Linked DNA regions of Homo sapiens: regions 1, 3, 4 and 5 are each linked to region 2. The links come from fine-mapping of genetic effects on gene expression. A gene starts in region 2. Each other region holds a variant in brackets. All regions are shown on one strand. Distances are from middle to middle.

Region 1 (5,099 bases), 300 kb before region 2:
CCGATTTCCTCCCAGCTCTCACCATCGAGACACAGGACAGACAGGGGCTGAGGACTGGCGGGCAAGGTACCAGGAGGACAGATATGGCTGGAAAGGGGGGTGTAATGGTTGGATTTTGCAGAGATTCAGGCTATGAGGTTGGGAGAAATGTAGCCTGTCTTTGAAATAGACTCTAGGCAGAAGGACCTTCAGTGTCAGGGTCCTAGGCCAAGGTGGGGAAGTAAAGAGGCCTTGGATGGATATGGGGGGAGGCAGGGGAAGAGAAGGGAGACTCAAAGGAGGCCAGGTGGGAATGATGTGGGCCCAGGCAGAGGGATGAAGGGCAAAAGAGGAAAGTAAGAAGGGGTTGTGATGGGGATAATGGGGGGTATTTGTGGTTGTCTCAAATGTGGTACAGCATCCCAAGTTAAGCGGGGGCAGTGGCCAGAGGGATCGCTGGCTTGGGGAATGTGGAGGTCTATTGGGAAGAGGTGGGGAGAGAAAGTGGTTGGGTAGGGGGCTCCAGTGGTAGGGGGCTATAGGGGATAGATGCCAGCAGGGTTTTCTCACCTTCGTGTGCAACTTGGCCAGCTGCTTCTCATCCAGGTTGGTCTGTTTGTAAACTCGGGTCTTGTATCGGAACTGAGGTCAAGGGTAGGGTAGTGAGAGAGACACAGAGACTTGGAATCAGGGGCCTGGGGAGAAGGCTTGGGGTAGGGGAAGGTCTGATCCCCTTCTAATTCCCCGGGGTAGCTCAGGGTGGGAGTGAAAACAGCCCTGGAACCTTGGTCTAGGCGGTAGATGGGTGGCAGTGGCTTTTCCGACAGTGCTGGGTATTATGGTATATGTGCACTGCAACCCCTGCCTTGAAGGAGGAGGAGTCTGGACCCCACAGGGAATGTTCTAGAGTGCCTACTGTAATTGGGAATCCTCCCCCAATTTGATGGGTGAGGAGAAGCTTGGGGCAGGAAAGTGACTTGGCCAAGGCCACTTAGCTGGTCAGAAGCAGAACAGATGGTAATTTGAACTCAGGACTCTCTGACTTCCCTGTGATGCTTAGAAGGTCTGGACTCGCACACTGGGTGCCCCCTCGTTAAGGTTTCGAGTGTGTTAAAAAGTGGGTGGGGGGCAGATGTGTTTTAGGGCATGCCTTCTCTTATCAGTGAAGGAGTTGGGGAAGCTTCACCTCCAGGTAGGGGACCCCCTTCTCAAAGGACTGGGGGTACTCCCGCAGCAGCCTCTCCTCCTCCAGGAAGTTGGCATCGCGGCCGGAGGTGGCCGGTTGGAACAGGCCATAGTTGAGCACATCCTGCAGGCTCTCGCTCAGGGCACAGAGCACCTGCTGCTTGGCCGTCCAGATGGTGGCATCGGGGTTGAAGCGAAGGCATTTCTGGTTGGGGAAGAGATAGGGGCTAGGGTGGGCCAGGGGCCAGAGGAGAGCCTGAGGTGGGTTGGGAAGTGAGCCAGGAGCTGAGTGTGGGGGTGATTCCTGGGAGGATACCCAGCACCAGTGGACTCCCCATGTCGGTTGGGGCACTGTCCCTCTCCTGCCGCTGGCCAGTGGGCAGGTACTCACTGTCTGGTGCAGGTCCGGGATGCCAATCCTGAAGACCATCATGCTGAAGTGGGCGTCGTCTGGGACGGACATTGAGCGGCCCTGGAGGCCTCTAACAGAGGCCAGGCTACCAGGTGCCCCACTGCCCTGGCCCCGGGTCCCCCGGGGGCCTCGACCTGGCCCGTCTGGGGAGCTGTCGGACTCTGAGCCCCCCTCGGGACACTCGCTGGCACTGTGGCGTTCCTCGTCCTCGCTTGTCGCGGGGCTGTGGGTCATTGTGGGGCCACGGGGCGACGGGGGACGGCAGCATCACAGGCGGCTGCAGGGGCCAAGGGCGGCCATCAGACTAGGAGCCCGGGACCCCTCAGAGGCCGCAGGCGCTATTCGGTGGTCAAGCGGTCAAGGGCAGCCTACCCCCACTGCCCAAGATAGGCAGGAAGGAGGCTGGACACACCCTCGGCCTGCACGGCCTCCCCTGCCGCCTCCTCCCACGCTGGCACGCACACACCCCTGTCCCTGACATGCTTCTGGCATGTGTCTCCTTCCCTGCCCTTGGCCCCGCTTGCAGCCCGCCCCCTGCGCCCCACTTTGCTGGTGACCCAGCGTGGCCGTGTCCCAGAAACCGCAGAATCACCGCGGGAGCTACTGGCCCACTTTGCCAGGCCACAGAAAATGCAGCTAAAATTAGCTAAGGACAGACAGGTGGACAAACTGACAGGCATCCTGCCCTCCTGGCCCCAGCCTGGCCCCTCATCCCAGGGCCGGGGGGTGGGGTTGGGGAGAAGCTGAGGCTGACACTGAGATGTAGTAAGGGGGAGAGGGAGGTGTGGTGAGCCTGGAGCGGGTGGAGCTGGTGACTTCACTCAAGTGTGGCTGACAACGCGTGGCATGCCGAATAGTGCTGGGGAATCTGCCGTCCCAGGGGAGCAAGGGGCACTGAGATGGGGGTGTCATGGGCAGAGCATTTGGCCTAGGGTGTCCCCAAGGGAACCACAAGAGGTGGCTTTTGGAGACTGGGGCATCTTGAGAGGGTGTG[C/T]GGGTAGGTGGGGAGGTCGGCCTGGGGAGTGCTGTCCAGGTGACAGTGGTGTGGTGGCCCGGGTAGATGTGGGTGGCTGCAGATGACCTGTAGCTCTTTTCTAGGACTGCAGGGTGGGTGGGCTGGCTTGCTGGGTACTAGGGGCTCCACTCTGAGGACTGGGGGTGTTAGGAGGGAGGCTAAGAAGTGAGAGGAGGGTCTGGGGAACTGAGTGGGGGATCATCTCTAGATCCTTGCTGTTCTCCCTTGAGGTGGCCTTATGAGGGTGGAGCCCCTTCCAAATGGGGTCCGCCTCCCTTCTGTTCTCCCCCAACTCCCACCCCAGCACCGGAAACCAGAATGTCTGGTCTGGTCCCTCCCCCCAACACCAGGCCCGGTTCCTGCACCGTTGCCATGGAGATGGGAAGCAGTGGAGGGTACTGCTGACTTTGGGGGAGTGGGGATGGGCTGGGGGGTTGGGAAAGGGAAGACTAAATGTGTGTGGTGGGAGGAGAGTTCCAGGAGGTGTGGGCGAGCGAGCCTCTAACCCAGGGCCGGCGGACCCCTCCCCCACGCGCGGCAGCGCTGCGAAGCCCCCTCCCCCTCCAGGTACCCAGCCACGCCGCCCCACCTCGTCCCTGCGGAGACCCCGGCTGCCTCCTCCCTGCCCCGCCGCACAGCCCACCTCGCGATCTGGGGCCCGCAGACACTCCCCCTCGGCTGACCCTGGCTGACCCCCAGCCTCAACCCCGCTCGGAGGGGGTGGCCGGTGGGATGAAAGAAAAGCTGGCTAGGGCCCCCCGCGCGTACGGCTGCCCCAGCCCCCCCGGGCCGGCTCCGGCCCCTCCCCCTCAGGGCTCGCGGGAGGGAGCGGGCACGCTCCGCCGGGGCGGCATGAATCAAACGCTCCGCGGCTAAGAATAGCTGGCACGCAGCTGGTACCGAGACGGGCTGAGGAATCGGCGAGGGGGGTGGTGGAGGACGCGAGAGAGGGGGTGCCCTGGGAGGCTGTGGGGGGACAGGGGGCGGCTGGCGTGGCCGAGAGCGGGGCCGGGGAGAATGAATGGAGGCGGAGGGAGGCGGGGAGGGGCGGGGAGAGAGAGCCGGAGCCGAGGCTGGGAAACTGGTGGGGGAGAACCCGGCCGGGGAGAGGGGCGGGGGGCACCGGGGAGCAGGAGTCGGGGGCGGGAGCCGAGGGGGCGCGCCGGCCGGCGGTGTAGGGACTGGAGACCTGGTGGGGACGCAGGGAGCTTGGACAGGGGTGGAAAGGGACTGGAGGAGCCTGGAAGGAGAAGCGGGAGCTGGAGGGGTCGAAAGGGGCGGAGGAGGCCCGGGCCTAGACCCTCGCTGGAGGGGAGTGGGGACCAGGGTGACCTGGCGGAGGGGCCCAGGTACGCCAGGGAGGGCGAGGCGGGGGAGTGGCCGGGCTGGGCGGGGAGGCGGGTACCAGGACCGAGCCCTTGGCCCCGGAGAGCCGGGAGGCGGGTTCGGGATAGGGGCTCTGCTGGCCGGGGGTGGGGGGCGCGCCCTCCCATCAAGGATGCGATCTGGGACGGGGCACCGGGGACCCGGGCGTAACCCAATTTGGTGTCGCCCAGGGCAACGCTCCCCACCTCACCCGTACCCCCAGCCGCACACCCAGGCCAGGAGCCCGGCGCCGGGCCAAGGACATCCGGGGCGCCCTCGCCCCCTCCCGCGGCCCCGGCCCCGCAGCTGCCCCAAACCCCCAGGTTCTCGACCCCCTTACCTGCCTGGCGGGGCTGCTGAGTCCCGGTCGGCGGCGCCCGCGGCCCCTCCCCCCTCCCCCCACCCCCCACCCCCCCGGAGACGGGGACCCTCAGGCCATGCCCCACCGCCCCGGAGGGCGAGCGGGCCCGGGGAGGGGGCGGGCGGGGACCGGGGGGGAGGGCGGGAGGGCCGAGGACCTCACCCCCCCCGCGGGCCGGGCCTGGCCATCCGCAGAGCGCCCCCCCTTCCGCCGCGGCCGCCGCGCCCCTCCTCGCCCGCCCCCGGCTCGGTCCGGCCGGCTCCGGGCGCCGCGTCTCCGCCTGCTCTTCCTCCTCCTCTTCCTCGGGCCGCCGCCGCCGCCGCCCGCTCCGCGCCTCCTCTGCCACCCTTCTCGCTCTCTCGCTCTCGCTGTCTCTCCCTCACCCTGTCTCTCTCCCTCCCTCTCTCCCTCCCTCCCCTCCCTCCGCCCTCTCCCCTCCCTCCGGGAGCCGGCGGAGGAGACATCGCCCCTCCCCGCGCCCCCAAACCTCGCCCATCCCCCACCACCGCCGGCTCCGCCCCCTACCCTTGCCCTCCCCCACCACTCCTCCCCACCTCCGAGTCCCCAAATCCTGACTCCGCCCCTGCTTGCTCCCATACCCCGAGGAAGGGGTCCTGCCCCCATAAGGTGCCCCCCCACACACACCTCAGGACCACCCCCTCCCAGAGAGCTCCCCGCCGCCCTACACAGAGTGGGGCACAATAAATATTTGTTGCCAGACTCTACACCCCCAAATTTAAGTGTGAAGGCTATAGATTCCCACCCTGTCCCCCCAAACACAC
Region 2 (5,099 bases):
GCAGCGCCGCCTCTGCGGCTGGAGAAAGAAAGGGGACGGAATCAAAGCACGGAGGGCAGGGTCTGGGTTTGGGGTTGGAGCTGGGCTGTGGCACTGGACTGCGTTCGGGGACGGGGGACGCAGCCAGAACGCGAGGGTGGTAGGGAAATATTGGGGGTTTCGCGTGCACCGAAGGGAATGGGAGGAGAAGAAGCGCGTGAAAGTGGAAGGAAGCTGGGATAGGGTAGCGTGGAGTAATGAGACAGAATAGGGTGGGTCTGGAGGGCAGGGACTGAACGCAGCGCGCCTGGAGAGCTGGCTAGAACGTCGCTGGTCGATAGAGGGGCGGGGATTGAACGCGGCGGGGAGGTAAGGGTGCGGGGATAGAACTCGGGGATCGGGGAGAGGAAGGGGTGTGAATAACAAAACGGGATTGAAAACCAGGAGAGGGGTGGGGCGCAGTGGTTTACGCCTGTAATCCCAGCACTTTGGGAAGCCGAGGCGGTTGGACCGCTTGAGCTCGGGAATTCAAGACCAGCCCGGGCAACACAGCAAGACCCAGTCTCTACAAAAACAAACAAACAACAACAACAACAACAAAAAAGTAGTCGCGGAGGCATGCGCCTGTAGTCACAGCTACCTGGGAGGCTGAGGTGGGAGGATCGCTTGAGCCCAGGAGGTGGAGGTTGCAATGAGCCGAGATTGGGCCACTGCACTCCAGTCTGGGCGACAGAGTGAGACCCTGTCTCAAAAAAAAAAAAAAAAAAAAAAAAAGCCGGATGTGGTGGTGCATGCCTGTGGTACCAGCTACTCTGGAGGCTGAGTATCGCTTGAGCCCAGGAGGTCGAGGCTGCAGTGAGCTCTGATTGGGCCACTGTACTCCAGCCACGGAGACAGAGCACTGCCCTGTCTCAAAAAAAAAAAAAAAAAAAAAAGAAGGAAAGAAAAAGAGAGAGAAAGAAAAAAACAAGAAAGAAAGAAGAAAAAATAAGAGAGAAAGTAAAACAAGAAAGAAGAAACAAACGAAAGGAAGGAAGGAAAGGAAGGAAGGAAAAGAAGAACGAAAGAAAGAAAAGAAAGAAAGAAAAAGAAAAAAGAGAGAGAAAGGGAAAGAGGAAGAAAAAAAGTGAGGGGAGAGGGCAAAAAGCGGTAAGGCAAGACTCAGGATAAAACACGGTGGTGTGGCCGGGAGCGGTGGCTCACGCTTGTAATCCCAGCACTTTGGGAGGCCGAGGCAGGCGGATCACGAGGCCAGGAGATCGAGACCACGGTGAAATCCCATCTCTACTAAAAATACAAAAAACTAGCCGGGCTTGGTGGCGGGCGCCTGTAGTCCCAGCTACTCGGGAGGCTGAGGCAGGAGAATGGTGTGAACCCGGGAGGCGGAGCTTGCAGTGAGCCGAGATCGCGTCACTGCACTCCAGCCTGGGCGACAGAGCGAGACTCCGTCTCAAACAAACAAACAAACAAAACAAAACACGGTAGTGTAAAATGGAGCGGGGCCGGGATGGGGCGGCGTAAGAGGAGGAGAAAGAACGCGGCGAAGAGTCCACGGAAGAGCGAGGATCCGGGTGGCAGAAATCGGACAGGGCCTGAGTGGGGCGGGTCACCCAGGGGCCGAGCCAGAAGAAGGGCCCAGCTGACTTGGGGGCGGGCCGTGCTCCGGAGCGCTGGGTGGGTGCTGGGGTCTCGGGGGAGGAGAGGTGCGCGGGGCTTGGTGACGGGAACACATTCTCCTCCCGCCCGTGCCTCCCACCGGCGCCTCTCCCCGCCCCCTGCCCCCGACCTTACCCCAGAGTTGCGCCATCAGCAGCGGCAGCAGCTTCGCCAGAGCCCGGGCGCCAGAGGCGGCGGAGAGGTGGAGGTGCGGAGCTCTCATGGCCAGGATCTGCTGGGGTGTGTGCAGGGGCGGGTTAAAACAGATGCTCCGTTAGAGACCCCCACCTCGCCGCGCTCATCCGCCCAGCCTGGGCCACCCCAGCCCGCAAGCACCCTTTTGACCTGCAGCCGATAACCCCAGGGGCTGGCAGACGGGAGATTCGGGCTGGAACAGCGGTAATGGGCACAATTACCCTAATGACGCCCCTCGCGGCATCTTCCCGTCCTCCCTGTGCCCGAGTGGAGCGCTCTCCGCGCCCCAGCTACCCTGGCTGCAGCCACGCCGCGCCCGAGGTTTCCCCCTCCTTCACGCGCGGGGTGGGGATCCGAGGCTCGGAGCCAGTGGGAGCCTCTTTCTCAACCTCACAGCGGGGGGACTTCCGCGTCCCGCAGGTGGAGAAACCGAGGCTCTAAGCCGGCTCCTGCCTGTGGCCCGGGGGTCCCCACCCATCCTCTCGCAATCCACCCCAACCCGGGTGGGGTGCAGGTAGCTTCACCTGGGAGTCGCCGATAGGAAGGAGGGAGGGGACCCAGACGTGCCTCTGCCCTGCCTGTGGTCTGCCGCTGGTATCCTCTGCCCAGGGACCCCTGGCGGGACCTTCCCTTTTAACCCCAAGGAGTCCGGAAGCTTCTCCACCCTCCCCTACCCCCACCCCCGGGCTCCCTCCCTTTCCCTCTGTCTAATTGTACCGTGGGTGAGGCTGGCACTCCTGGGTCCCAGATTCCTGCTCTGGGAGGGGCCCTGGAATACAGGCTTCTCCCAGTGCCCGAAACGCCCCCTTTTCATCCCTTTTGGAACTGGCTTCCGTGGGGATTCTCCGGGTCCCGGTGCCAAGAAGGCTTCCCAGGCGCGGGGAGAGGGTTCACGTCCCCAGCAAGGCTAGGGGTGGCAGGATGAGAGGCCACTGAGCAAGAGGAAATCAATGGGAAGTGCATACCTAGAGTGACAATGTGAGAAGCCAGACTGTGGAAGAGGAAGGAGGAAGGCCTAGAGATAAAGCAGGTTGAGTAGGAGGGACAGAGGCTGGCTTGAAAAGGGAGATTGTAACAAACCAAGGCTAAAAGAGCCAGAGAGAGAGAGAGAGAGAGAGAGAGAGAGAGAGAGAGGGAGGGAGGGAGGCGCCGAGGCTAAGAGAAACAGAAACAAGGAAAAAGGGAAACCCACGCCCACTCTGTGGCCGTGAGTGAGCTCTGTGTGTGTCCCAGTGACTAGCCCATGTGCGTGTTGGGGGGGGCTGTGGCTCTGCCTCATACCCATGTGTGGCCATCTCACACCCTCCCTGCCATCTGTGTGCCACCAGGTGACACACAGGCCCCTGAATCATAGGAGGTCAAAGCTGTGAGGGGCATCGGCATCACCTCAGCCAACTCCCTCATCTCAGGTGAGGAGTGAGAGGCTCAGAGAGGGCAGAGACTCACAGGAGGTCACACAGCAAGTCCACTTGACAACCAGAAGGCCCTGGTTCCACTCTGGGCTCCTATTGCTCATGCCAGCCACTTCTGCGAGGTGAACAGACCATCCCAAAAGATCCTGAGCTGGCCGGGCGCGGTGGCTCACGCCTGTAATCCCAGCACTTTGGGAGGCCAAGGGGGGGCGGATCACGAGGTCAGGAGTTCGAGACCAGCCTGGCCAACATAGTGAAACCCCATCTCTACTAAAAAGACACAAAAATTAGCTGGGGATGTTGGCACAGGCCTGTAGTCCCAGCTACTAGGGAGGCTGAGGCAGGAGAATTGCTTGAACCTGGGAGGCAGAAGTTGCAGTGAGCCGAGATCACGCCACTGCACTCCAGCCTGGGTGACAGAGCAAGACTCTGTCGCAAAGAAAAAAAAAAAAAAAGATCCTGAGTTCTGGATTCTCTCCGTGGGACATCCTCTTCAGAGGCCATCTAACTCAGTGCTGCTCAGCTGAACTTTCTGCAGTGATGTTTTATATGCACTAGCTAATCCAGCCACCACCAGTCACATGTGGCTATCCAGCCTTGGAGATATAACAAGTGAGACAGAGGAGTTACATTTCTGGCTTTATGTAATTTTAATTGGAAGAGCCAGCTGCGGTTAGTGGCTACCATATTGGCCAGCAGAGGTCTCCACTATCTAATTACCTATCATGGAAGTTGGAGAAAAACAATAAGCTCCTTTGGTTAGGTCTTAGTATGTGCAGGCTAACTGACTTCTTTACTTACTGTGTTATACTTTTGCATGCAGCATTTTACAGGAAAGGAAACAAACAGAGCCTTACTCCAGGAACATCACTTGGTAATTAAGAGATCGCCTTGCTTCAGATCCTTGCTCTCCTAGCCACGTGACTGTGAGCAAGTGACTTTGCTTCTCTGTGTCTGTTTCTTCAACTATAAAATAGGTATGAAAACAGTACCGACCTCACAGGGTTTTGTGAGGATTAAGTTGATACATTTGAAAGTGCTTGGAGGCCAGGCACAGCGACTCATGCCTGTAATCTCACCACTTTTGGAGGCTGAGGAGGACAGACTGCTTGAGCCCAGGAGTTTGAGACTAGCCGGGGCAACATACTGAGACCTCTGTCTCTACGAAAAATACAAAAATTAGCTGGGCTTCGTGGCATGTGCCTGTAGTCCCAGCTACTCTGGAGGCTGAGGGAGGACAATCACTTGACCCCAGGAAATTGAGATTGCCGTGAGCTGTGATTGTTACTGCACTCCAGCCTGGGCAACAGAGCAAGACTGTCTCCTAAATAGATTAATTAATTTAATTTCTTTTAATTAATAAATGAAAGCCGGGCGGGCGCGGTGGCTCACGTCTGTAATCCCAGGAGTTTGGGAGGCCAAGGAGGGCAGATCATCTGAGGTCAGGAGTTCGAGACCAGCCTGGCCAACATGGTGAAGCCCCATCTCTACTAAAAAATACAAAAATTAGCCGGATGTGGTGGTAGGCACCTGTAATCCCAGCTATTCAGGAGGCTGAGGCAGGAGAATTGCTTGAACCCAGGAGGTGGAGGTTGCAGTGAGCAGAGATAGCACCACTGTACTCCAGCCTGGGTGACAGAGCGAGACTCTGTCAAAAAATAAAATAAAATAAAAGCCATTGGATCAGGGTCTAGCACATAGTAAGCACTCAGTAGATTCACTCATTTAGCAAATATTTATTGAAACCTTGATATATGGCCAGGAGCTGTCTTTGGGGCTGGGGATACAACAGAGAACAAACCAGGTGTTGTCATTCCCAGAGTCACAATATTTCAAGGCAGAATTTGAATCCAGGTC
Region 3 (5,099 bases), 460 kb before region 2:
GTCCACTTATATGTGGACTTTCTCCTGCCTCTGCCACTCCTGAGACAGCAAGACAACCGCCCCCTCCTCCTGCTCACAGCCTACTCAACGTGAAGACAATCAGGGGAGCCCGTTACGATGATACACTCCACTTAGTGGCTAGTAAATGTATTTTCTCTTCCTTAGCATTTTCTCAATAACATTTTCTTTTCTCTAGCTTACTTTATTGTCAGAATTCAGGATAGAATACATTTAACATGAATGTGTTAACTGACTGTTTATGTTATTGGTAGGGTGTCCAATCAACAGAACACTATTAGGAGTTAAGTTTTAGGGGAGTCAAAAGTTACAGGCAGATTTTCAACTGCACAGGGGGCTGGCACCCCTAGCCCCCAAGTTGGTCAGGGGTCAACTGTATACATACACACACACACACACACACACACACATACACACACACATACATACATACACACACACACATCACACAAATTTCTGCTGGAGTGCAGTGGCGTGATCTCAGCTCACTGCAGCCTCCACCTCCCAGGCCCAGGTGATCCTCCCACCTCAGCCTCCTGAGTAGCCGACTACAGGCGTGGACCACTACACCCGGCTAATTTTTTTGTATTTTTGTAGAGATAAGCTTTTGCCATGTTGCCCAGGCTGGTCTCAAACTCTCGGCCTCAAACAATCCTCCTGCCTCAGCCTCCCAAAGTGCTGGATTATAAGCGTGAGCCACGGCACCCGGCTGTATTTCAATATATCAATGCATCACTGTCAAACAGACTCTCTGCAATGATGCAAATGTTCTCTCCGTGCTGTCCAGCACTGGTGGCCACCAGCCACACGAGGCTACGGAGCACGTGACGTATGTCGAGAAGGAGCAGGGACTGAATTCTTCATTCGACTTGATGTGACTGTTGCTGCTCATGCATGGCAGTGGCTGTGGCAGCTACTGTGTTGGACAGCATGGATCTAACCACTGATCCTGCTTGGAACTGCTTCTGCCTGAGTCCCTGAAGTGCCGCTCCGTCTGCTCCTTGGCCCTGCCCAGCTACCTCACAGGGCTCTTATGGGACTCATGGAGAAGCCAGGGAGATCACAGCTGGAGAAATGGAATGTTATGGAGAGTCTGAGGCCTGAGCACCTGACCAGCGCTGCCTTGGTTGCCTGTGCCAGGCCTGCGCTGCGGGAGCTGCCTGCAAGAGCTCATTCAGTCCCCGCAAGGGGCCCATGGCGAGAGCTGCTGCTGCCCATTTTACAGAAGGGCACACTGAGGCACTGCCATACCCATGGATAGCCAGATTTGGGTAGGCTTTGAGATAAAAACTGAACTTCCAAAAAAAAAGAAAAAGAAAAAGAAAAAGAAAAGAGGGCCGGGGGTGGTGGCTCACGCCTGTAATCCCAGCACTTTGGGAGGCCAAGGTGGGCGGATTACCTGAGGTCAGGAGTTTGAGACCAGCCTGACCAACATGCTGAAATTCCACCTCTACTAAAAATACAAAATTAGCCGTGCCTGGTGGCGGGCGTCCATAATCCCAGCTACTGGGGAGGCTGAGAAAGGGGAATTACTTGAACCGAGGAGGCAGAGGTTGCAGTGAGCTGAGATGGCGCCACTGCACTCCAACCTGGGCAACAGAGCGAGACTCTGTCTGAAAAAAAGGAAAGAAAAAAAACTGAACTTCCAGGTCCCTGGACTGTGATTCTGTGCTGGGATGGGGCGGCTTAACACCCCTGAACTGAATTCACCCCAGAAGAGAACTGGGCCCTGGCCTGGCATTGGTGGTTTTTACAACAGTATTTGTTGCCAAGGCTCAGGCAGTGGGGCGTGAGAGCGAGTTTGCAGGTTGGGAGGGGCGTGGCCCCCGCCAGCTCCACTCATAGGGGTCCTGCCTAGGAAGGACGCTGATCCGATCTGTTTTCTCTCACAGGGTTGTGCATAGTTATTTTGTTTACAACAAAAGGGTGCTGCTAAAAGTCATAAAAAGCTGAAAACTATGTGAACTGGAGCAATGCTTCTCAGACATGAATGTGTGTCCAGCTGTCTGGGAATCTTGTTAAGAGGCAGATTCTGGCCGGGCGCAGTGGCTCACGCCTGTAATCCCAGCACTCTGGGAGGCTGAGGCGGGCAGATCACTTGAGGTCAGGAGTTTTGACACCAGCCTGACCAACATGGTGAAACCCTGTCTCTAATAAAAATACAAAAATTAGCTGGGCGTGGAGGCACCTGCCTGTAGTTCCAGCTACTCGGGAGGCTGAGGCAGGAGAATCACTTGAACCTGGGAGGCGGAGGTTGCAGTGAGCCGAGATCGCACCACTGTACTCCAGCCTCGGTGACAGAGTGAGATTCTGTCTCAAAATAACAATAACAATAACAAAAAACTGCAGATTCTGCATCGCCATATCTAGGGTGAGGCTGTCATTCTGTTTCCCAGGGGATGCAGGTCTCACAGCAAGGGGCTGAAGGGTCTCTAAGTGCCCATCTCACTCCTATATTCCATTTCGGGATGAAGAATGAAGCCCCCTCCTCTCCTCTCCGGAGCTCTGTATAGGGGTGTAGCTCAAGGTGGGCCTTGGAATCAACTAGACCTGGGTTTGAACCTCAGCTGCCACAGTTACTAGCCATGTTGGCTTGCAAAGGGAGCTTCACCCCTCAGGACCTCGGTCTGCTCACCTGTAGGTGGGGAAGGTCTGATATCTGTGATGAGTTTAGGGAAATGCCTGGGGCATAAAAGGAAAATGCTCAGTGAACTTATTCCAGGATCCAGAAGATCCTCCTTCTCCTCGTCTACCTCATCACACCGTCCTGTGAAGAGGAAGGATGGAGAGGTGGAAAGAGTGTTGGTGTTGAGGAAAACTGGGTTGAAACTCTGGCTGGCCACTTTCTCCCTGTGTCCCCCGCCCCAGGCTCCGCCTTGCAGTCTGTGAAGATAATGACACCTATTAATAGCTTGTTGGGGTTCCTGGAGACCATGTACAGTGCTTGACACTTAAGTGACAGCTACATTAAAAGTTATCATTTATTCTCGGCCGGGTGCAGTGGCTCACGCCTGTAATCCCAGCACTTTGGGAGGCCGAGACGGG[C/T]GGATCGCTTGAGGTCAGGAGTTCAAGACCAGGCCGGCCAACACAGTGAAACCCCCGTCTCTACTAAAAATACAAAAAATTAGCCAGGCGCTGTGGTGCGTGCCTGTAATCCCAGCTACTCAAGAGGTTGAGACAGGAGAATCGCTTGAACCTGGGAGGTGGAGGTTGCAGTGAGCGAAGATAGCACCACTGCACTCCAGCCTGGGTGACAGAGTGAGACTCCGTCTTAAAAAAACAAAAAACGGTATTTATTCTTACGGGTCAGAAGAACAAACAGTTTTCCCATTCCATGACTCAGCCCCCTCCCCACCCAACCCCGCCACTTCTCTGCCATTGTAAATCCAGCATTTCTGGCTGGATCAAAACCACTCATCTGTCAAGGAGTGGGGGGCCCATGGGATCACATTTGGGGTCTTTGCCCTTCCCGCAACAAGATCCTACAACCCCCACGTCGGTGAGGGCTGATTCTCTACTGTGAGAATCAGCATGGGGAGTCCTTTCCCTTCTGGTGCTTGAGAGGCATAAACAAGATTGAGAACCTGACAGCCCCTAAGTTATAGCAGCTTCAATGCCTTCAAAAGTCTAGACTTGTTGGCCGTGGTGGCTCATGCCTGTAATCCCAGCACTTTGGGAGGCCAAGGCAAGAGGATCGCATGAGCTCAGGAATTCCAGACCAGCCTGGGCAACATAGTGAGAACCCCCTCTCTACAAAAAATACAAAAATTAGCTGGGTGTGGTGGTGCACGCCTGTAATCCCTGCTACTTGGGAGGCTGAGGCGGGAGGATCGCTTGAGCCCAGGAGGTCAAGGCTGCAGTGAGCTGTGGTTGTGCCCCTGCACTTCAGCATGGGTAACGGAGCAAGACCCTGTTCTCCCCCAACTCCAAAAGTCTAACCTTCTATGAGTGTATTGTTATTAACAACCTAATTATTGTGATTATTAACAATTTTATGGCCGAGTGCAGTGGCTCACACCTGTAATCCCAGCACTTTGGGAGGCTGAGGCAGGTGGGTCACTTGAGGTCAGGAATTTGAGACCAGCCTAGCCAACACAGTGAAACGGTGTCTCTACCATAAAATACAAATAAATAAATAAATAAATAAATAAGCCAGGTGTAGTAGTGATGCGTGCCTGTAGTCTCAGCTACTCAGGAGCCTGAGGCAGGAGAATTGCTTGAACCCAGGAGGCAGAGGTTGCAGTGAGCCGAGATCGCGCCACTGCACTCTAGCCTGGGTGACAGAGTGAGACCCTGTCTCAAAAAAAAAAAAAAAAAATTGAATTTCCACTTTTAGGGCCCAATGGACCAGTGCATTCTCCTCTCTTGGCCTCAGTTTCCCCCTCTGTAAACTGGGAGTCTCATGGAGGGAGGCGACCTGCAGGGCGGCCCACACCAGGGTTTGGAGTCCCGGCTCTGCCATTTCTAGGTGTACTATTTTGGGCAAGGGACCCACCTCTCTGGGCCTCAGTTTCCCCATCTGTCAAACCAGGGATGATGACTGTGCCTCCTTGCAGGGTTGCCTGAGGAATACACGGAAAAAATCCACATAAGAGACTGAGCACTGAGCCTGGCTCGTGGCATGCTCTCAATCAGTTAGCTACGATCATGGTCATCTCCAGCTCTGGAGAGAGGGTTTGAGGCAAGGGGAGGGCCAATCTCCTCTGCGTTTACCCCCTGGGGCTGGCCTCTGCAGTGGAGCTGTGGCTGCACAGCCTTCTGACCTTTGTTGTAGTGTTTGAACAAGAACTCTGGGGCCTAAGCTCAACTCCCTGGGCTGGGGCAGCATCTGGGGGGCACAGTGAGCCTGGGAGTGGCTGGGGCTGCTGCCCCCTCCTGCCCTGCCTCACTCTCTTCCTCCTCTCCATCCAGGGTTTTTTTTTTTGTTTTTTTTTTTTTGGCGATGGAGTTTTGCTCTTGTCGTCTAGGCTGGAGTACAATGGGCATGATCTCGGCTCACTGCAACCTCTGCCTCCCGGGTTCAAGCGATTCTCCTGCCTCGGCCCCCTGAGTAGCTGGGATTACAGACTCACACCACCACA
Region 4 (5,099 bases), 43 kb before region 2:
CCTGGATGATAGAGCAAGACCCTATGTGAAAAAAAGAAAAAAAAAATTATAAGGAAACTTCATGAGACTGTAAGCAGAAAAAAGTGCCAGAAGTCATAAACAATAAAAACCAATGCCTGGGCCAGGCGCGGTGGCTCATGCCTGTAATCTCAGCACTTTGGGAGGTCAAGGCGGGCAGATTGCCTGAGGTCAGGAGTTTGAGGACAGCCTGGCCAACGTGGTGAAACTTGGTCTCTACTGAAAATACAAAAATTAGCCGGGCATGGTGGCAGGCACCTGTAATACCAGCTACTCAGGAGGCTGAGGCAGGAGAATCACTTGAACCTGGGAGGCAGAGGTTGCAGTGAGCTGAGATCGCGCCATTGCACTCCAGCCTGGGTGACAAGAGCAAGACTTTGTCTCAAAAAAAAAGAAAAACTAAACTAAACTAAACTAAACTAAAACCAATGACCATTGAAGGAAGGCTTACCTCGTGCCACACAATGTTTGAGCACTTTCTGTATATTAACTTATTGAATCTCTGTAATAACCCTAGAAAGTAGGTGCTTTTTCTCCCATTTCAAGGATGAAGGAACAGGGACAGGGGAAGTAATGAGCTTAAAGGAAAATAGCTTGTAGGGACTAGAACTGGGATTTGAACCCAAGAAGCCAAGATCCAGAGCTAGTCCCTTAACTACCACACTATACTGCTTACCCAAAGAAAAATGAATTACTTAAAAAAAATCAACATTAGTACCATCTCAGTCATTGCAAACCAATCTACCTGTAGCTTGCGTATAGGAGAGCAGAGGGCCAGGGCCAGGGATCTCCAGGCTGACTTAGTGCAAATGCAATGTTTTGTTACTTTTTAAAATTCCAGATTGAATGTTGGAGTGCCTTGCAGAAGAGAGAGAAAATGTTGCTAAAACTTCAGGGGAATGACTGGTCGAAAATGTTTGACATTCTTAAACTTGACAGGCCCAGAAACAGAAGGGGCTGGGGACCTGGGCTCCTGGGTCTGAGGGAGGAGGGGTTGGGGCGGGGGGTCTGGACTCTTGGGTCTGAGGAAGGAGGGGCTGGGGGGGAGCCTGGACTCCTGGGTCTGAGGGAGGAGGGGTTGGGGCGGGGGGTCTGGACTCCTGGGTCTGAGGAAGGAGGGGCTGGGGGGGATCTGGACTCCTGGGCCTGAGGGAGGAGGGGCTGGGGGGAGTCTGGATTCCTGGGTCTGAGGGAGGAGGGGCTGGCGGCGGGGAGCGGTCTGAACTCCTGGGTCTGAGGGAGGAGGGGCTGGGGGGAGTCTGGACTCCTGGGTCTGAGGAAGGAGGGGCTGGGGGCGGTCTGGACTCCTGGGTCTGAGGGAGGAGGGGCTGGCGGGGGGGGGGGTCTGAACTCCTGGGTCTGAGGGAGGAGGGGCTGGGGGTAGTCTAGACTCCTGGGTCTGAGGGAGGAGGGGCTGGGGGGGAGTCTGGACTCCTGGGTCTGAGGGAGGAGGGGCTGGGGGGGAGTCTGGATTCCTGGGTCTGAGGGAGGAGGGGCTGGCAGGGGGGTCTGAACTCCTGGGTCTGAGGGAGGAGGGGCTGGAGGGAGTCTGGATTCCTGGGTCTGAGGGAGGAGGGGCTGGTGGGGGGGGTTCTGAACTCCTGGGTCTGAGGGAGGAGGGGCTGGGGGGAGTCTGGATTCCTGGGTCTGAGGGAGGAGGGGCTCGTGGGGGCAGGCCTGCACTCCTGGGTCTGAGGGAGGAGGGGCTGGGGCTGGTCTGGACTCCTGGGTCTGAGGGAGGAGGGGCTGGGGGGAGTCTGGATTCCTGGGTCTGAGGGAGGAGGGGCTGGGGTTCTGGACTCCTGGGTCTGAGGGAGGAGGGGCTGGGGGGAGTCTGGATTCCTGGGTCTGAGGGAGGAGGGGCTGGGGGGTCTGGACTCCTGGGTCTGAGGGAGGAGGGGCTGGGGGCCTGGACTCCTGCGTTTTCTGTGTTAGCCTCCTATATGGGAGAATCAGAATTAGCGGCTGCAGAATTTCTGCAATATGACAGGGCTGTGGTGCCTGGGTTAGGAGAGACTCAGAGGGAGATGAGATAAGGAGGGGAAGGATCTGGAGGATCTTGGTGGGGAGGGAATTCTGGGAGAAAAACAGGAAGAACAGGTAGGAGGGCGTGTCCTGGGCTGGAGTGGCTCCTCGGTCAGCAGCGTCTGAGGTGTGACCACACAGAGGATCTTTGATGTTAGATGGCTGGGGCTGTGGCCAGGCTCTGAGTCACAGAGGACTCCTCCCTCATCCTACCCGCTTCCCGAGGTTCCTTTCCCTCCCTTCTTGGGGAGCAGGTGCCACCATCTTCCTCCGGCACTGTTTGCTTACTTCTGGCAGACCCCCGTGGGACCCCTGTGTCCTGTCTACTGTCATCCCAATCCCTCTGAAAACCGCCAGCCTCCCTCCTCACTTGTCACTCGTGAGATGCTCAGAAACACTTTCACACCCCTTCCCACGCTGATGAAGTTGGCCTGTTCTCTCCTCCCTCCTCCCTTCCTTCTTCCTCTCTCCATCCTTTCCTCTCTCTCCCATTTTACAGACAGGAAAAACTGAGATCTGGGAAATGGAAATATGCCCTGGAACAGGGCCGGCAGGACCAGGGCTCAAAACCAGGCACATATTTCTTTCTAGTCTCCCTTCCTGAAAGGTCACCTCTCTCCAATCTTAGATCTTCAGACTTTTTTCCCCACCTTTATTTTTCATGTTATAAAAGTGCACATTCAAGGAAAAGTACACAGAAGGAAGGAGACACCTCATGACGACCCCAGTATGCAGTCTGGGACATGTGTTTTCAGATCTGATTCTGTGAATATTTCATTTTTTATGGGTAGGGTCACATACATATATATTTTTGTCCTTCCTTTTGTCATTTAACATCCTATAGCCTAAATGTTCTTGAATAATACTGACAATTCTGTCTAAGTATCATTTTTAATAGGTTTGTAATATCATTGTGGGCTGGCCGTGGTGGCTCATGCCTGTAATCCCAGCACTTTGGGAGGCCAAGGTGGGTGGATCATCTGAGGTCAGGCGTTCAAGACCA[T/C]GCTGGCCAACATGGTGAAACCCTGTCTCTAGTAAAAATACACAAAAAATTAGCCTGGTGTGGTGGTGCACACCTGTAGTCCCAGGTACTTGGGAGGCTGAAGCACGAGAATCACTTGAACCCAGGAGGCGGAGGTTGCAGTGAGCCAAGATTGCATCACTGCATTGCAGCCCAAGCAACAGAGACTCTGTCTCAAAGAAAAAAAACATCGTTGTGCCAAGCCAGACTATTATTTAAGCCATCTGGTACTTTTGGAACATGTTTGATGGTTTCACTTCATTTCTGTGATAAATAATATCATGGTAAATTCAAGTCTTGTTCTACATTTTGGATTTTTTTTGTTTCAGTAGGTTCTTCCTAAGATTAGAGTTACTGGGTCAAAGGTGGTGAATAAGGGTCTCGGTGTACGTTGACCAAGTGTCTTCCGTAAAGACTGTACGAACGTCCAGTTCCAGTGTTTGAGAGTGCTGGTCTCACTGACTCTTCTCCAGCACTGAGGGTTTTGTGTTTCTTTATTTGTTTTGGTTTTAGGTCTTTACCAATTTGATTGGTTTATCAACAGGGCATGAGGTTGGTTTAAATATATCTTTGAGGAAAGGTAAAGTCAAATTTGACTTCATAGGTCATCGGCGTCCTCACTCCTGTGCATTTTCTGTTGGAAGCACACAGTTAATTAACTCAGTGTGGCGTTAGCGATGCTTTTTCATGGTGTCATTTATCCACTTGGTGAACTTGCACACTTGAGTGTAGACTCCTGGGTCATTGGGTTGGCCGCAAGGGAAAGTTCCCCAGGACACCAGACCTTGCAGGGTACCTCTGCACACCAACGGTCCCCCTGAGTCACCCTAGAGGGAATAGAGCCGGAGATTAACTTTGGCTTCAGATCAAAGCCCAACTCATTCTCATACATTCCTCAGTTATCGGTCTTTGTCTTGCAGATTATGGACTTCCACCATAGCCAATGAGAAGAGACTCATTGTCTCTGGGGACTAATGGGAGAGCTAGTGCTAGGGACACACTAGGTCCTTTGAAGACACTGGTTTGACCCTTGGCCAATGAGACCAATTGCAGAGAAGGGGTGGGGCTTCCAGGATCAGAGCACTCTTTATTTTCCAATGTTAAGGACCCTGCTCCAAGCTAGTGGGAGAAGGAACATCATCTCCAAGGGGTGGATGCGTGCCCTGTGGCGCAGGAAAGGGGGACACGATGGTCTCGGAGACCAGGGTGAAGACCAGTTACATAATTTACAGGACTTGGTGCAAAACGAAAATGCAGGGCCCTTTGTTCAAAAATTATTGAGAATTTCAAGACAACAGCAGGAATGCATTAGACTAAGTTTGAGACCCTTCTGAGTGTGGGGCTCTGTGTCCGTGCAGAGCTTGCACATTCATGAAACTGGCCCTCACCAGGGGAGAAGGGGAACACCCTATTCTCTAGGACAGTCATCTCTCTCCCATCTCCTCTATCCCTAACACTCACCATCCCACATCCCCTGACAGCTGAAGGTGCAGATGTGAGCAAGGAGGATGGGTGTGGAGAGACAGAGAGAGTTGGAGGTGGAGAAGAAAGAGGGAAAGGAGAGAGAGACAAAGAGAGATGAGGAAGAGGGAAAGGGTATGGGGAGAGAGAGAGACAGAGAGATGGGGGTGGAAAAGAAGGAGGGAGAAGAGAGACAGACAAAGAGATGAGGGAGATGGGGAGGGTGTGGGAAGAGAAGAGAGAGAGAGATGGGGGTGGAGAAGAAAGAGGGAGAAGAGAGAGACAAAGAGAAAGGGGGGGAAGGTGTGGGGAGAGAGATGGGGTGGGGGTGGGGAGAGGAGAGAGAGACTGGAAGAGAGGAGGAGAATAAAGAGAGAGAAAGAAAGACAGAGATGGGGGAGCGGCAGGGAGAGGAGAGAGATAGAAGAAAGAGAAAGAGAGAGACAGTAAAAAGGAGGGGGCAAGGAGAGATGAGGGAGAGAGATGAAGAGAGACAGAGAAGTGGGGGAGAGAGAGAAAGAGGAGAGGGCCAGAGAGGAGACAGAGAGAGAGGAAAAAAGAGAGAGCAGGGGGG
Region 5 (5,099 bases), 110 kb after region 2:
TTCGTTTGTTTGTTTTTGTTTTTTGAGATGGAGTCTCGCTCTGTCACCCAGGATGTAGTGCAGTGGCACAATCTTGGCTTACTGCAACCTCTGCCTCCTAGGTTCAAGCGATTCTCCTGCCTCAGCCTCCTGAGTAGCTGGGATTAAAGGTGCACACCACCACACCTGGCTAATTTTGTATTTTTAGTAGAGACAGGGTTTCACCATGTTGGCCAGGCTGGTCTCAAACTCCTGACCTCAGGTGATCCGCCTACCTCAGCCTCCTGAAGAGCTGGGATTACAGATGTGAGCCACCGCGCCCCATCCTCACTGTCTGCTCTGACTCACTTCTCTCTCCCATGTCTCAGGGGCCCCTGACTGAACCTTGGGCAGAAGACAGTCCCCCAGACCAGCCTCCCCCAGCTTCTGCCCGCTCCTCAGTGGGGGAAGGAGAGCTCCAGTATGCATCCCTCAGCTTCCAGATGGTGAAGCCTTGGGACTCGCGGGGACAGGAGGCCACTGACACCGAGTACTCGGAGATCAAGATCCACAGATGAGAAACTGCAGAGACTCACCCTGATTGAGGGATCACAGCCCCTCCAGGCAAGGGAGAAGTCAGAGGCTGATTCTTGTAGAATTAACAGCCCTCAACGTGATGAGCTATGATAACACTATGAATTATGTGCAGAGTGAAAAGCACACAGGCTTTAGAGTCAAAGTATCTCAAACCTGAATCCACACTGTGCCCTCCCTTTTATTTTTTTAACTAAAAGACAGACAAATTCCTACCTCTCTGTACCTTGGTTTCCTGCTCTGTAAAACAGGAATGAGAAGCCCTACTTGCAAGGTTGTGGTCACCATTCCAGGAGTCACATCCCGTTAGAGCTCCTGGCACAGGTGTATGCCGAGCACTGATGGATCGCTGTGCTTTGAACACAAAGGTCCTGCTGGGAACCTCTCCTGATTCTGGTGGCAACTAGTACTTATATGTCTGTGTCACTTGCCTGCAAAATAGCGATTCTGCAACTTTCCAGGAAATAACCTCAGCCTGCAAATCAGGTCTAGGTAGCATCTGGATCCTGCCCACCTCTTCAGCCTCATCTGCCCACCCTGTGACTGCTAGGCCGCCTTACTCTCTGCAGTCTACGTATTGTGCACAGTCCAGTGGGAATCTTTAGGACACACTGAGCTCTCTCCGCACTGCTCACAGCCCATCCATGGCTCCTGGATCCTGAACCTCCCATCACATCCTCTTCGTGACATCACTCTCCCACTTCAGTCCACTCCTCCATCTTCACCACTTAACCCACTGGTCCCTCTGGTCTTTTCCAAATCATTTGCAACATGCCCTGTTGGTTCATACCTCAGTCCTTGCACACTGGGGACCCTCCTCCTAGAACGCCCTCCTCCTGGGCCTTCTTCTGTCTCTGTCTTTGAAAATGGAGTTCAAGGATTGGACTTCTGGGTTGAGCTGAGGGAGAGAGTGAAGCAGCAGCTCATGATCTCCCTCCTCTAAAGCCAAACCCAGGGAATGAGAAACGTTTCCAAAGGGGCACAGGATCATCTGGCAAATTAAACAACATGATCCAAAAAAATTTACCTACATGCAGCACCCGAACGAGGAAAGGGACATCTCACAACAATCACTTTATGCAGTAGCCCTGATAGGAAGAAATCAAAGGACTGGAGGAAGCACTAAAACTTCCCTAAATCTAGACTCTTGCCCATTTACGGCAGCATCAAAAAACCGTAAAGTACCAAGGAACAATTTTTTAAAAATCATGGCCGGGCACAGTGTCTCACGCCTGTAATTCCAGCACTTTGGGAGGCCGAGGTGGGCAGATCACGAGGTCAGGAGATCGAGACCATCCTGGCTAACATGGTGAAACCCTGTCTCTACTAAAAATACAAAAATTAGCCGGGCGTGGTGGCGGGTGCCTGTAGTCCCAGCTACTCGGGAGGCTGAGGCAGGAGAATGGCGTGAACCCGGGTGGTGGAGCTTGCAGTGAGCTGAGATCGTGCCACTGCACTCCAGCCTGGGAGACAGAGCGAGACTCCGTCTCAAAAAAAATAAATAAATAAATAAATAAATAAGTAAAAAATCATATCCGAGCTGGGCGTGGTGGCTCACGCCTGTCATCCCAACACTTTGGGAGGCTGAGGAGGGCAAATCACTTCAGGTCAGGGGTTCAAGACCAGCCTGGCCAACATGGTGAAACCCCATGTCTACTAAAAATACAAAAATTAGCCAGGCGAGGTGGCGTATGCCTGTAGTCCTTGCTACTTGGGAGGCTGAGGCAGGAGAATTGCTTGAACCCGGGAGGCGGAGGTTGCAGTGAGCTGAGATTGTGCCATTGCACTCTAGCCTGGGCGACAGAGCAAGAGTCTGTGTCAAAAAAAAAAAAAAAAAATCCTATGCTATGGTTTGGATATGGTTTGTTTGGCCCTGCCAAGCCTCCTGTTGATATTTGATGCCCAGTGTTGGCGGTGGGGCCAAATGGGAGGTGTTCAGGTCCCGGGATTGGATCCCTCATGAATGGCTTGGTGCTGTCTTCAAGGTAATGAGAGAGTTCTCACTCTGTTACTTCCTGTGAGAGTTTCTCCAAGAGCTGGGTGTTAAAAAGACATTGGCACCTCCCCTCCCCAGCCCGTGCTTCCTCTCTTGCCGTATTGTCTGCACATGCAGACTTCCTTTTGCCTTCCACCATGAGTGGAAGCTTCCTGAGACCCTCACCAGAAGCAAAGGCTGGTGCCAAGCATTTTCTATGTGGTGCAGAACTGTGAGCCAAATAAACTGTGGGGGGTGCACGGCAACATATTCAAGCTTATGTACAAGGCATTTGAGGTCGAGGCATGGAAAAATACTGAGGCACCGTGTGCGTGTTGTTTGTGCATGAGATTGAAACTCCTTGACCCTGAAAACAGGGCAAGGAACGGAATGTGTGATAAGGAGCGCGGAAAGCAG[C/T]CTCCTGAGACTGTAGTCTGAGTGTTTTTACCAGGCCATATGTGTCTCATGACCCGACCGCAAAAGGCCATCTGGTGGACATTTTGGTTTAACAAACCCTTTCGAGAAACACTTGGCGGACGGATTCTGGGGCGGCACTCTTTCAGAGATGCTGCTGCCGCCGCATCCCGCTCAGCTGGAATTGTCTGAGTGCTTCATTCTTGGCGTTCACTGCAGCTACAAGCTGTATAAACCTCTTTTCTTTATAAATTACCCAGCCTCAGATATTACTCTATAGCAACACAAATGAACTAAGATAACACGGAATGCTTCTGTACTGATGAATATAGAACATTTTTGAGAGACTTAAGGAAGGCCCAAATGAAGGAAGAAATATATCACGTTCATGGATTAGAAGGCAAAAATGGTTAAAATGTCAGTTGTCTGCATATTGATTTAGGTAATCCCTGTCAAAATTCCTATATATATATAAAATATATGTATATGTGTATATGTATGTACATAAGTATAGATGAGTGTATATGTATGTATATTGTAAATATAAGTTTATATATATACATATATAGTTATAAATTGATAAGTTGGTTCTGAAATTTATATAAACACATAAAAACCTAGAATAACCAAATCATTGTGATAAGAAACACATTTAGAGAAGGCAGACTTTAACACTAGAGTAATACAGAGAGTGTGGTGTGGACTAGAGTACAGTCTACAAATGGACCCACACATATACAGTCAACTGAATAGCATCAAGTCTATTCAATTGGGACAGGAAAGACTTTTAATAAATGTTGGTAGGTGGTCGGGCGCGGTGGCTCACACCTGTAATCCCAGCACTTTGGGAGGCTGAGGTGGGTGGATCACTTGAGGTCAGGAGTTCAAGACCAGCCTGGATAACATGGTGAAACACCATCTCTACCAAAAATACAAAAAAAAAAAAAAAAAATTAGCTGGGTGTGGTGGCAGGCAACTGTAATCCCAGGTACTAGGGAGGCTGAAGCAGAATTGCTTGAACCCAGGAGGCAGAGGTTGCAGTGAGCCAAGATTGTGCCACTGTACTCCAGCCTGGCGACAGAGTGAGACCCCATCTTGAAAATAAATAAATAAATAAAAAATAAATGTTAGCGGAACAAGTGAAATTAGGGTTGGTAAAAACGAGTGTTGAGCTGTTTCTCACATCACACGCAAAAAATTAGCCTGAAGCGAATCATAAACCTAAAAGTAAAAGCGGAGACTATAATGTTTGTACAACTGTGCTGTTTGATATGGTAACCACTAGCCACATGTGGCTACTGAGCACTTGAAATGTCCTACATTTAGTGAGAAAATAATATAAAAATCTAAGTAATTAATATTTAAAATTGATTACATGTTTCCATGTAACGGCATAATACTCATCAATATATAATAACAATATATAATACATGCAATAGCTTGAATAAATTTTGAAAACATCTTGAGTCAAAGAAGCCAGATGCAAAAGAATACATGCTCTGTAGTTTCACTTATATGAAGTTCAAGAACAGGCCAAACTAATCTACAAAGACAGAAATTCATAACAGTGACTGCCTCAGGTTGGGAGTGGGATTTGGGGATTAACGTGAATGGCACACAGGGGAACTTTCTGGGGTCCTGGGAATTTTATTTCTTTCTTTTCTTTTTTTTTTTTTTTTTTTTTTTTTTTGAGAAGGAGTCTAGCTCTGTTGCCGGGCTGGAGTGCAGTGGCTCACTGCAACCTCCGCCTCCAGGGTTCAAGCGATTCTCCTGCCTCAGCCTCCTGAGTAGCTGGGATTACAGGCACGGGCCACCATGCCCAGCTAATTTTTGTATTTTTAATAGAGATGACCACCATGTTGGCCAAGACCACCATGTTGGCCAGGATGGTCTTGATCTCTTGACCCTGTGATCCAACCACCTCTGCATCCCAAAGTGCTGGGATTACAGGCGTGAGCCACTGCGCCCAGCCAGTCCTAGGAATAGTCTATGTCTTAACTGGGATAGTAATTATGTGGTTATGAATCAAAACACATTGAATCACGCAAATAAAATCTATGTATTTTACTGTATGTAAATTTACCTTTCATGAAAGAGAAATTAAAAACTCTTAAATGATGAAAGCTTTTGGTTCCCTCTTTTTTATTAGACTAGCTAG

The links. PIP is the estimated chance that this variant, and not a neighbour inherited with it, causes the effect.
Region 1: its variant is fine-mapped to the expression of KLK10 in cerebellum (GTEx, PIP 0.98).
Region 3: its variant is fine-mapped to the expression of KLK10 in esophagus muscle (GTEx, PIP above 0.99).
Region 4: its variant is fine-mapped to the expression of KLK10 in lung (TOPMed, PIP above 0.99).
Region 5: its variant is fine-mapped to the expression of KLK10 in atrial appendage (GTEx, PIP above 0.99).

Annotation. Positions count from the first base shown.
Region 1 is chr19:50,715,110-50,720,208 of GRCh38, forward strand. SHANK1 (SH3 and multiple ankyrin repeat domains 1) reads right to left here and starts at 4,693. Exons shown (of 24, transcript NM_016148.5): 1 at 4,297-4,693; 2 at 1,556-1,853; 3 at 1,166-1,369; 4 at 550-621. The coding sequence starts at 1,810. The variant C/T (reference allele first, on the strand shown) is at 2,571.
Region 2 is chr19:51,017,273-51,022,371 of GRCh38, forward strand. It overlaps KLK10 (kallikrein related peptidase 10), which reads right to left and starts at 2,437. Exons shown (of 6, transcript NM_145888.3): 1 at 2,355-2,437; 2 at 1,771-1,867; 3 at 1-18. The coding sequence starts at 1,858. KLK11 (kallikrein related peptidase 11) reads right to left here. Exons shown (of 6, transcript NM_001136032.3): 6 at 4,964-5,099.
Region 3 is chr19:50,557,800-50,562,898 of GRCh38, forward strand. All of the region lies in intron 1 of LRRC4B (leucine rich repeat containing 4B), which reads right to left. Among named protein-coding and RNA genes, the nearest start is that of LRRC4B, 8.1 kb to the right of the region's middle. The variant C/T (reference allele first, on the strand shown) is at 3,064.
Region 4 is chr19:50,973,801-50,978,899 of GRCh38, forward strand. KLK7 (kallikrein related peptidase 7) reads right to left here. Exons shown (of 6, transcript NM_005046.4): 6 at 2,668-3,891. The coding sequence ends at 3,736. LOC105372442 (a long non-coding RNA gene) reads left to right here. Exons shown (of 7, transcript XR_007067308.1): 7 at 860-926. Among named protein-coding and RNA genes, the nearest start is that of KLK6, 6.8 kb to the left of the region's middle. The variant T/C (reference allele first, on the strand shown) is at 3,047.
Region 5 is chr19:51,129,544-51,134,642 of GRCh38, forward strand. It overlaps SIGLEC9 (sialic acid binding Ig like lectin 9), which reads left to right. Exons shown (of 7, transcript NM_014441.3): 7 at 348-767. The coding sequence ends at 536. Among named protein-coding and RNA genes, the nearest start is that of SIGLEC9, 7.2 kb to the left of the region's middle. The variant C/T (reference allele first, on the strand shown) is at 2,945.